2 separate regions of the Homo sapiens genome follow, and region 1 is linked to region 2. Evidence: fine-mapped expression QTL. A gene starts in region 2. The other region holds a variant in brackets. All regions are shown on one strand. Distances are from middle to middle. Region 1 overlaps GPKOW (G-patch domain and KOW motifs). Region 2 holds the start of PRICKLE3 (prickle planar cell polarity protein 3).

Region 1 (5,364 bases), 74 kb before region 2:
AGGAAGCCTTGCTGGGCATCTAATGGGAAAATCTGTGTTCCCAACAATGGAAATCAGCTAGATTGACCAAAGCACCAGAGGAACAAATGTATTTAGAGTGGTTCTGTGTGCACATGGTGGGGGGTGTATGGCAAGTGGGGAGTTGTCAACTGGCAGTCTTTAGCAGTGGCTATATGGAGGCTTCTCATGATTTCCACTTCAGTCAGAACAAAAGCCATAGTAGTTCCAGTGGACTGACCTTACAGCACTACAGGATCTCCCTGACCTGACCTCCTACCACCTTCTCCCTCACTTACTCCCCTGCAGCCACACCAGCCTCCCGGCTGTTCCTCACACATGCTAGCAACAGTGCTACCACAGGGCCTTTGCACTTCATTTCCCCTGTCTAGACCGCTTTCCCCAGATAGCTGCATGACCATCCCTTACTTCCTTAATACCGTTGCTTAATGTCACCTTCTCTCTAAGGCTTTCTGTGGCCATCCTATTAATACTGCCCCTTTCCCCCATGGTTCTCAGCTTCTTATAACATCTTCCATCACTTACTTCTGCTTATTGCTCACTGTCTCAGCCCCAGTGGAGTGTCAGCCCCACAAGGGCAAGGATGTTTGTTTTGTTTGTAGCTCCATACTCGGTACCCAGGATGCTGCCTGGCATATAGTAGGGTCTTGATATTAAGTGATTTACTCCATACGGTTCCCCTAGCATGCAGGATGGTACCTGGCATTCAGTAGGAGCTCAAGAGATGTTTGTTGAATGAATTGGTGTGATAGGGGACTTGGTGAGGACCCGCCCCCACTTAGATAGCTTTAGAAGCTGTTGGATACTTCATCCCTCTGCGTGGTGCTGCAGACATGGAGATGAAGAGGTGGCCTCAGTGTGGGAGTAGAGGGGAGCATTCCCTTGACTGAGGAAGGAATGTTAGAAAAGAGAGCTGAGGCTGGGCATGGTGGCTCATGTCTGTAAACCCAGCACTTTGGGAGGCCGAGGTGGGCAGATCACGAGGTCAGGAGTTTGAGATCAGCCTGACCAACACTGTGAAACCCCGTCTCTACTAAAAATACAAAAATTAGCCGGGCATGGTGGCATGCGCCTGTAATCCCAGCTACTAAGGAGGCTGAGGCAGGAGAATCACTTGAAACTGGGAGGTGGAGGTTGCAGTGAGCCAAGATCACGCCACTGCATTCCAGCCTGGGCGACAGAGCAAGACTCCATCTCAAAAAAAAAAAAAAAAAAAAAAAAAAAAGAGCTGAGGCCAGGAGTGGTGGCTCATGCCTATAATCCCAGCACTTTGGAAGGCCAAGATGGGAAGATCACTTGAGCCCAGGAGTTCAAGACCAGCCTGAGCAATATAGTGAGACCTTGTCTCTCTTATATTTAAAATAAAAAATTATTTAAAAAAAATTTTTTAAAAGAAGAGCTGACCTGTCCATATCTGCCACTGAACACAGCCCAGACAGCAACCCACAGCACCTCAATAATTGACTCCTCTCTGAAAGGCAAAGAAACTGCTTCCTGAGTCTGCTGCTACAAATTCAAGGCTTGGCATCTGGACAATTTTTAACAGAAGCAGACCCCTGCCAGGGAAACTTCTGGGGGCTTGGCAGAAGAGGCAGATGCCTTTTAATCTACCTCTTGCTCAATCCCTGTGATGTGAAAAAAGCCAGTCTGGACAAATTGTACAGGTCACAGTCCCCAGCTTGTGAGGGGCCTGTAGAGAATTCTCGGGCTCACAGAAGCCGTTGCTGCAGTAACCACTGCCGCAAGAGCAACTTTGGCAGCAGGCAGGTGCCAGGCAGCAAGCTGAGAGAACACTGCACAGATTCAAAGTGTCTTCAGATACAAGGCTTTGTTTGTGCACAGTGAACAAAGGGCATATTGGGAAGGCCTCCTTATATTGTCCACACTTCCCTGAATGTAAGGAGCCCTGTCCTCAAAATGGGGATCAGCAGGGCTCCTTTCAAGGTAAAGCAGAAAAAGTCCCAGTGGCCTGTCAAGGGAGACCAGGCGCTTTGGCTGGAGCTAGGTGTTCTGGACAAAGGGCCATATTCAAGAACTTTGGGCCCCATTTTCAAGCGTAGGCTTAGGAGAAAGATGAATTCCAGGAAATCTGAAGCTGATGAGATATCTGCTTTAGCATTGTGGCACGGGGAGGAGATGGAGGGTGTCTGAAATGGCCAGGTTATGTTGTGTTACAGGCAGAGACAGAGCCCCAGTGCCATTCCCTGGGGAGCTTTAGCCCTTCTCAAAGGTGCTACCAAGGCTGGTTTATTATGATTGGAGAAAGGAGGAGGCCTCCTTGACAGAGTGAAGTGCATAAAGCATAGGAAATGGACTACTGGACATGAGAAGTTGGGAACATCCTCCCTACGATTAACAAAATACAAGCCAGAGACCAGGCACGGTGGCTCATTCCAGTGCCTATAATCCCAGCACTTTGGGAGGCTGAGACGGGAAGATCGCTTGAGCCCAGGAGATCAATGCTGCTGTGAGCTATGATTGCACCACTGCACTCCAGTCTGGGCAACAGAGGAAGACCCCAGGCTCAGCATATTCTCTGGGGTCCTGCTCTAAACTGAGAGTGAAAGCATACTCTGCTGCTAGTTGCTAGAGTTCTTGCTCAGAAAGTTGTTCAGAGATACAGTATTTCAGATTCCACAGCATCTAAAGATTTTTTTTTTTTTTTTTGAGACAGAGTCTAACTCTGTCCCCTGGGCTGGAGTGCAGTGGCGCAATCTGGGCTCACAGCAACCTCTGCCTCCTGGGTTCAAGCGATTCTCTTGCCTCAGCCTCCTGAGTAGCTAGGATTATAGGCGTGCACCACCATACCTCGGTAATTTTTTGTATTTTTATACTTTTAGTAGAGACAGGGTTTCACCTTGTTGGCCAGGCTGATCTTGAACTCCTGGGCTCAAGCGATCCATCCACCTCAGCCTCCTAAAGTGCTAGGATTACAGGCATGCACCACTGTGCCCAAGCTTATAGTATCTATATTCCAAGAGTGAGCTCACAATCAAATGAGTCCTTTAACTTGTCCTGTACCCTGAGCAGAAAAGCAAGGCTGAAAAGTGAAATGGTTCCCACCTCAGTC[A/G]ACTCAGTTCCCACCTTAACTCGCAGCTCATCATACCACTTATGATTTCATCTTTCTATTAAGTACTTGAAATGGTTTTTATTATACCCTAAATTTTGGTAAATATTGGGTTTGTTTCTAGCTTCCCTACTGGTTCACCCATCCCTTTCCCTTGTCCTTGTCCCAGGACTGCACCAGAAGTAGAGGATGGAACAATGATCTTCCCACCTTCTGAAGGCAACTTTCTCATATGGTACAGAACTGGTACCAGCCTGGGGGATGGGAGGAGTCCCATGGGTCAGTCATCATCTGTGTCACTAGGGCCCATGTACTGGCAGATGGCATCGTAGTGAAGCTCCACCACCTGATTTTCTCTTGGCAGTTGCACCAAAGCCCGGCTCCGTGCTCTGTCCCGGCTCAGCAAATGTCCCACCTGGAACAGAGGTGAAGTGGAATCAGCAAGGCAAGCCTAGACCCTGGGACAGGCCCTGAACGACCCACAAACCTCTACTGCCAGGTCTGAGACTCACCCTTCCAGTCTGTGGGCCCAGCACCACCATCACACGGTCACCCTCTGCCTTGGGAACCAGGGTCTCCAGCATGTCTTCCCTCAGGCCTATGGATAAGGGAGAGGGGAGTGAGGCCCACAGCAAGGACCAGCCCAACCAGCGTCCTGTCAGAAGGGCCTTTCCTGGCCAGGCGTGGTGGCTCACACCTGTAGTCCCAGCACTTTGGGAGGCTAAGTTGGGAGGATCGCTTGAGCCCAGGAGTTCGAGACCAACCTGGGCAAGATGGTCAGACCTCATCTCTACAGATTTTTTTGTTTTGTTTTTTGAGACTGAGTTTGGCTCTTGTTGCCCAGGCTGGAGTGCAATGGTGTGGTCTTGGCTCACTGCAACCTCCGCCTCCTGGGTTCAAACGATTCTCCTGCCTCAGCCTCCTGAGTAGCTGGGATTACAGGCACCCACTACTGCGTTTGGCTAATTTTGTATTTTTAGTAGAGATGGGGTTTTGACATGTTGGTCAGGCTGGTCTCAAACTCCTGACCTCAGGTGATCCACCCTCCTCGGTCTCCCAAAGTGCTGGGATTACAGGCATGAGCCACCGCGCCCAGCCTACAAAAAATTTTAAAATTAGCCAGGCATGGTGGTCAGTGCCTGCAGTCCCAGCTACTCAGGAGGCTGAGGTGAGAGGATGGCTTGAAACCAGGAATTTGAGGTGGCAGTGATCCATGATGGTGCCACTGCACTCCAGCATAGGTGATAAAATGAGACCCAATCTCAAAAAAAAAAAAAGAAAAAAAAAAAAAAGAAGGGCCTTTCAGCTGGGTGTGGTGGCTCATGCCTGTAATCCCAGCACTTTGGGAGGCTGAGGCAGGAGGATCACGAGGTAAGGGGTTCAAGACCAGCTTGGCCAATATGGTGAAAACCTGTCTCTATTAAAAATACCAAAATTAGCTGGGTGTGGTAGCGGGCACCTGTAGTTCCAGCTACTCAGGAGGCTGAGGCAGAAGAATAGCTTGAACCCGGGAGGCGGAGGTTGCAGTGAGCCAAGATTGCGTCACTGCACTCCAGCCTGGGTGACAGAGTGACTCTGTTTCAAAAAAAAAAAAAAAAAAAAAAAAAAAAAAAAGAAGGGCCTTTCCTGTATTCCCTGGAGCCACTCTACACCCTGTTGACAGATGGGAGTCCCGCCACATCCATTTCACAGATGAGGTAGCCTAAGGAGTAGTTTACAAAAATCACTGTAATAAAGGGTGGTGGTGATAACAACAGGCACCTTTTATTGTGGGCATGTTTTAACCCCTGCCCTGCACTGAGAGCTCAATACACATTCCTTCACTAAGGCACCAATCACAAGAGGAAGAAATAGTAAATTCCATGCTAATTTGACAGACCGGAGGCCGAGCGCGGTGGCTCACGCTTGTAATCCCAGCACTTTGGGAGGCCGAGGTGGGAGGATCACTTAAGGTCAGGAGTTCCAAGACCAGCATGGTCAACATGGTGAAACCCTGTCTCTACTAAAAACACAAAAATTAGCCAGGTGTGGTGACGCTTGCCTGTAATCCCAGCTACTCGGGAGGCTGAGGCAGGAAAATCGCTTGAACCTGGGAAGTGGAGGTTGCAGTGAGCTGAGATCACGCCACTGCACTCCAGCCTGGGTGACAGAGTGAGACTCTGTCTCAAAAAAAAAAAAAAAGAAAAAAAAGAAAACTTGACAGACTGGGAGAGTGGGGCTCAAGATAACCAACCACCATCATGGAAGTGTCTAATGTTCTGTAAGAGGATGCTAGGCCT
Region 2 (5,364 bases):
AGGCATACTCCTCCGATGCACAGCCTGAGTCGTCGTCGGAGATGGAGTGGCGCTGGAAGTCCGAGATTAGCCGACACATGATGCGTTCCAGGTCCACAGGCACCGCGTGCACTGCATGCTCCTCCCGCGGGCATTTGCAATGCTGGCAGATCTTTCTGAGGGGGCCGGGATGGGGGTCAATTACTAAGGAGTTGCCCACCCGAACCCCTCGGCAGCCCAGGTCCAATGGAGGAGCGGGGACATACAGATTATCACCACCAAAGGTCTGTGAGCAGGGACAGGGATCTGGGCCTGGGGGCAGGGCTGCAGGAGGTGGGCCTATGAGCCAGGGTGTGGCTGGGCTGTGAGCCAGAGGACAGGTCGTGGGGAGTGGGATGCTTTGTGGGGGAACTTTCACTAGACACAGGCATCTAACCTGTGGTGAGGCTCTGAACTTGTGGGCTCTGAGCCTGTGGGTAGGGCCTGAGTCTGGGGGCTGTAGGCTCTGTTTATTGGGTGCAGGGCTCCAGCAGGAGGATAGGACGCTGGGCCTGGGAGAGTAGGTCTGAGTCTAAGAGGGGTGCTGGAGGCCAGAGGGCGGCGCTCAGAGTTAGAGACGAAGAATCTCCCTAGGGATGCGACTCCGCGGCTACGGGAGAACACTTCTGGGGGCGGGGCTGCGTAGTGGGTGGAGCTCTCCTGGGAAAGGACTTTGGGGAATGAGTCAGGGGGCGGGGCTCTGAATCTGAGCCTGAGGCTCTTTTCCCAACTGAGATCCCTCTGTAGGCGGAGCTCAAGCGTAGGGGCGTGGCGTAAGGCTCCTGGATTTCCCCCCGAAGGCGGAGCTCTGACAAAGGCGAGGCCCTTTAGGGGCGCCACTTACCTCCAGCCGTGGAGCAGGAAGCCAGGGCACTGCTCCCTACAGGAGTTGCAGGGCTGGCCCCGGTCTGGGTCCTCTGCCTCTGGAGGCTGCAGTGGGCGGGGGCAGATGCAGGGCCGGGTGAGGCGCGGAAGCAGGGAAGGAGAAGTCAACGCCCGCCCCTCCACTTCATTGCCCGCGACCGCACGCTGGGGCCTGTCTTACCTGGGCAGCGCTGGGCAGGCTGGGACAGCGCCCAGAGTGCGGGGGAGCGGGACACAACCGAGGCAGAGGCGGGGCAGTTGGAGCCACCTCCTTATATGTCCCCTTTTCAGGGAATTCCCCTTCCTAGGCTGGCCTCGGACCCCCCTCCCCGTCCGCCCCTAGCCTCAGACACCTCCCACCAGCCTTAGATCCTTCCAGGGCTCAAGCACCTCCCCTATAATTCATTGTACTCTCCCCACTAGAGCACAGAACCCCTACTCTGGGCATCCTCTCCCCGGCCTCATCCCGGTTCCCTCTCCATCTACGCCGCCAGCAGCACTCCAGTTCCACAGGGTAGGAGACGAGACCGCATTCTTCCTTGAGATCCCCACGTGAACCCTGCCCCTCTCTTCAGAAGCTCAGGAGCTCCTCCCCTAAACCCTGGCCTCATGCCCTGATACCCAAGGAACTGGGGACCCTCCCCAGGATCTCAGGAGGCCCCTGCTCCATTCAGAAACCCCCATCCCAAGAAACCTTGGCCTTTACCCATCCCATCCTAGGGCTATTTATTCCTTCTCCGGACCATCAAACCCAGACCCCACATTCCCAGGTCAGAGACCCACTCCAAAGGAAGTGAAAGAACCTCCTATCTAAGAAGTCAAAAACTCCCTTGCTCAGGCGGAACCCTGGAAGCCTTGTCCCCCCAAATCCCAGTCTCTTGACTCTCAGCATTTCGGCATCCCAGGAGTGTAGGACTCCATCCCTCCGTGCACATTCCTCCAAGGTACTGTGTCCTTTAGAAGCTGAGGAGGTCGGCCAGGCTCGGTGGCTCACGCCTATAATCCCAGCACTTTGGGAGGCCGAGGTGGGCGGATCACCTGAGGTCAGGAGTTCGAGACCAGCCTGGCCAACATGGTGAAACCTTGTCTCTACTAAAAATACAAAAATTAGGCGGGCGCGGTGGCGGGCGTCTGTAATCCCAGGTACATGGGAGGCTGAAGCAGGAGAATCGCTTGAACCCAGGAGGCGGAGGTTGCAGTGAGCGGAGATAGCGCCACTGCACTCCAGCCTGGGTGACAGAGATTCAGTCTCAAAAAAAAAAAAAAAAAAAAAAAGCAGCAGCTCAGGAGGTTCCTGCTCAACCTAAGGCTTCAAGACCCAGTTCTCTGGCCCTCAGGATTCCCTCCCACAATTCATAAGAGAGGGGTCCCCACCAGGTCCCAGGAGTGCTGATGAAAGTGTGTGGAGAGGTGATTAGGGGGTTTGGGCCACCAGATCTACACCTTCCTCCATCCATTCGCCTCCAGCAGCCCCAGCCCCAGGTCTGGGAATGCAGGGGATGGGATTCCCAGATCCTCTGTGGGGCACCTATTCGCTATGCCTATCCATTGCCCCCTTGCCTGGGCCTCAGTTTACCCCCGACCCCCACCGCTGCCCTGACTCCCGCTCACCGCACGCCCGGAGCGGCGCCTCCGGGACCCACGCGCGAACATGGCGCGCCCGGGCAGGGTCAAGCCGGGCCGGGTCAGGCGAATGTAATCCTTGCGACCGTCAGGCCACCGCGCGTCCGGCCTGGGAACTCGGTTCCGTAAACCTGACACCCTCGTGGGAGGAGCGCGCCCCGCAGGGCCCGCCCCCGGGCATGTGGTCTCTCCGCTGCCAGGGCGCCCCCTGCCTAGAGGTGAACTGCACGTAGCCCGGAGTGCCCCGCGGGAAAGGCCTCTGCCCTCCCGCTCCGGGCCGGTGCGGGGCGTCACAAGGCACGACCCCCAGAATCCCGGCGTGCCACGTGGCCTCTCACGGGACCTGGGGCTTGAAGGTTCTGTAGTGGAGGATGGGGAGACTCAGAGGTGGCCAACTGGACTGAGAGGGGTGGCGCGCTAGGGTGCTTGTGTTGACGTTTTGTGTCGATTTATTTCGGATGCTTATTTGGGAGAGGGGTTAAAGACACCTCTTGGCTCCTCCCCACTGGTGAGGTTCCGAGGGTCTCCCCGATGAATGCTGCAACAATGGGCCCCAACCTCACCCGCAGCCCCAGCTGGTGCTCGCTGGGAACCTGGGAACCTGGCCCTAGCCACCAGAGAGCTAGATCTTATACGCACTCCTCCCTTCTCATTCCCCTCTCAGCGAGGCCAGGTTCCAAAGCCCTCGTCCCCTCTCTCCCCTCATCCTTATAAGCCTAGCTGTCCAGCCCCGTCCCCCCACCCCAAGTCTTGAGAAGTAGATCTTAAAGCCTTCCCTCCCCCACCCACATTTTTCTCTCTCCAGTTATCCCCTTCCCCAGCTCAGTTCCAGGGCGGGGAGCCTCTCCTTCACGCTCTCAGGCTTGGCTGTGCCTCCGGGCTGGGGGGAGGGGGTCCCATGGCCTCAGTCAGAACTCGGCCCGGGTCTCTATGCACGGAGACTGCAGCGGCCAGGCCCTTCATCGCGGGCCCCGGGGACCTCTCCCCGCCCCCCATTACACATGTCCCTGTCACTTCCCGTGGAGTGGAGAGGTAAAAGAGAATAACTAATGAACTAAGGAGTCACCCCGGCGCCCCACCTCCCCTCCTTGCCTAACCTGTCTCCCATTTCTCCAGCCTGGGCGGAGGCAGGGAAAGGAGAGACAGTAGGGTCTGAAGATTAGGGATGGGGTCAGGCAATGTGAGGTTTCCTCCTATTCGGACCCCTTGGGGATTTGAGGAGAGGGTTCCACAGGGGCTCGGAAGAGGCTTGGCTAAGGGACCAGAATTAGAACCAACTCCTAGAAAGACCGGGCATTTGGTGGCCAGTAGTGGGAGGGTGAGCAGGGCTACTCAGAGAGTGACAGAGTGATTGGCAGGAGAGGCTTCCCAGAGGATGCTGCTCTGCCTAACACTTTTGAAGGGGCCTGAAATGGTGCAGCAAGCTGAACTGCGGTCGGTGGGTCCGGGTGGAGCTTGTTCTCACCACCTCTCCCTCCTTTCTCCCCCGGCCAACCTCCTCCCCGGCGCCCGAAAAAGACACACTGAGAAATCAGAGCCGGGTAGACTAGGTGGTTAAGGAGTTTATTTGGGAGAGGAGAATCATATTTGTTCTTCCTTGGGGAGGGGGGTTCTTTGAACAATACCGAAGGGTTTGGGAAAGGGTAGGGGTCTGGAGGGGAGAAGGAGGGGCCACAGCCAGACAAAATGGCAACACACGATCACAGGCACTACTGACATCACAGACATAGCAGAGGGTGCAGGATAGGGGCTCCAGACCAGGCCTCCAACCACCCCAGGACGGGTGGAGGTGTGGAGGGAGGGAGGGCGCAGGGGAAGGGGGAAGAGGGGTGGGCCAGTCCCACAGACCCGTTGGTTCTGTCCTCCTATTAACCTAGCTGTTTCATCACGGGAGTGGGGAAGGGTGTGTGTGGTGGGGTGCTTCTCTCTGGATCCCACGCCTCACCCTACAAGCCATATCACTCGACTCTTCTCAGGCCACTTCCGTCCCAAGTCGTAGCCAGAGCCATTCTCCCCCACCCCTAACAAAACCCATCTGGAAGCTCCTATCCAAGTCCCCTCTCCACTGCCCAAACCCAGCCATTGTAAAACATTTTCTTCACTGCACCATGGGGAGGGGCTGCCCTTTCTGAAACCACCATGGAAGCCCCATTCTAAGCCCCACCCTGTCTGGAACCCTGGCTTGGCCCATTCCTGAATCCCACTTCTTGCCTTGCTCAAGATCTGTCCCCTTTAGAATCAAGCTCAGTCTCCCAAATGTTCCAAGCCACACCCTTTCCATAGGCTCTGGTACCAATCCAAGACCCACCTACTCTGGAGCCCACCATTCTGCCTCGCTTAAAGCCTCGCCCCTTCTAGAACCCTGCCCTCAGCGCCCTTCCAAGCCCCACCCCAGAATGCTCTAGCGCACTCCTCTCCTTCAGACTCCAGATCCACTCTGTCTGGAACCCAACCCCCCTGCTGACCCCTCCACTCCACACCTCCTCTCCAAGACCACCTTGGGTCCTAAACTGTCCTCTCTACCCCAAGCCCCCCCAATCTCTGCCTTTCTTTAACCCTGGAGTTGGATTTCCCTAACGGCCTTTGTTCAGGCAGGCATTGCTGGAGGAACCAAGGCCAGAGTTGGGAGGAGTGGAGGGAGAGAGAGGAGAGAGTCTGAAGTCACGCCCACCCTCCCCACACAGCCGAGGTCTGTTCCCTCCCTGTCCTCCTTTTAGATCCCCTTAACCTCAGGGGACAGGGAGGGTAAACAGAGAGGGGCCAAGGGATGCAGGGAAAGGGACGGGGTAAGAGAGGGGGCCCACTCAAGACTGGGCACCTAGTGGATGAGGGGAGTGGAGTGAGGGCAGGGCTCAGACA

Evidence for each region. PIP is the estimated chance that this variant, and not a neighbour inherited with it, causes the effect.
Region 1: its variant is the best candidate, but not a certain one, in a credible set for the expression of PRICKLE3 in whole blood (TOPMed, PIP 0.90).

What each region holds. Positions count from the first base shown.
Region 1 is chrX:49,110,256-49,115,619 of GRCh38, forward strand. It overlaps GPKOW (G-patch domain and KOW motifs), which reads right to left. Exons shown (of 11, transcript NM_015698.6): 10 at 3,598-3,683; 11 at 3,152-3,500. The coding sequence ends at 3,366. Among named protein-coding and RNA genes, the nearest start is that of GPKOW, 11 kb to the right of the region's middle. The variant A/G (reference allele first, on the strand shown) is at 3,089.
Region 2 is chrX:49,183,763-49,189,126 of GRCh38, forward strand. PRICKLE3 (prickle planar cell polarity protein 3) reads right to left here and starts at 2,611. Exons shown (of 9, transcript NM_006150.5): 1 at 2,494-2,611; 2 at 863-948; 3 at 1-155. The coding sequence starts at 2,535. SYP (synaptophysin) reads right to left here. Exons shown (of 7, transcript NM_003179.3): 7 at 4,053-5,364. RefSeq lists cis regulatory regions at 510-1,010, 2,370-2,910 and silencers at 619-832, 2,604-2,733.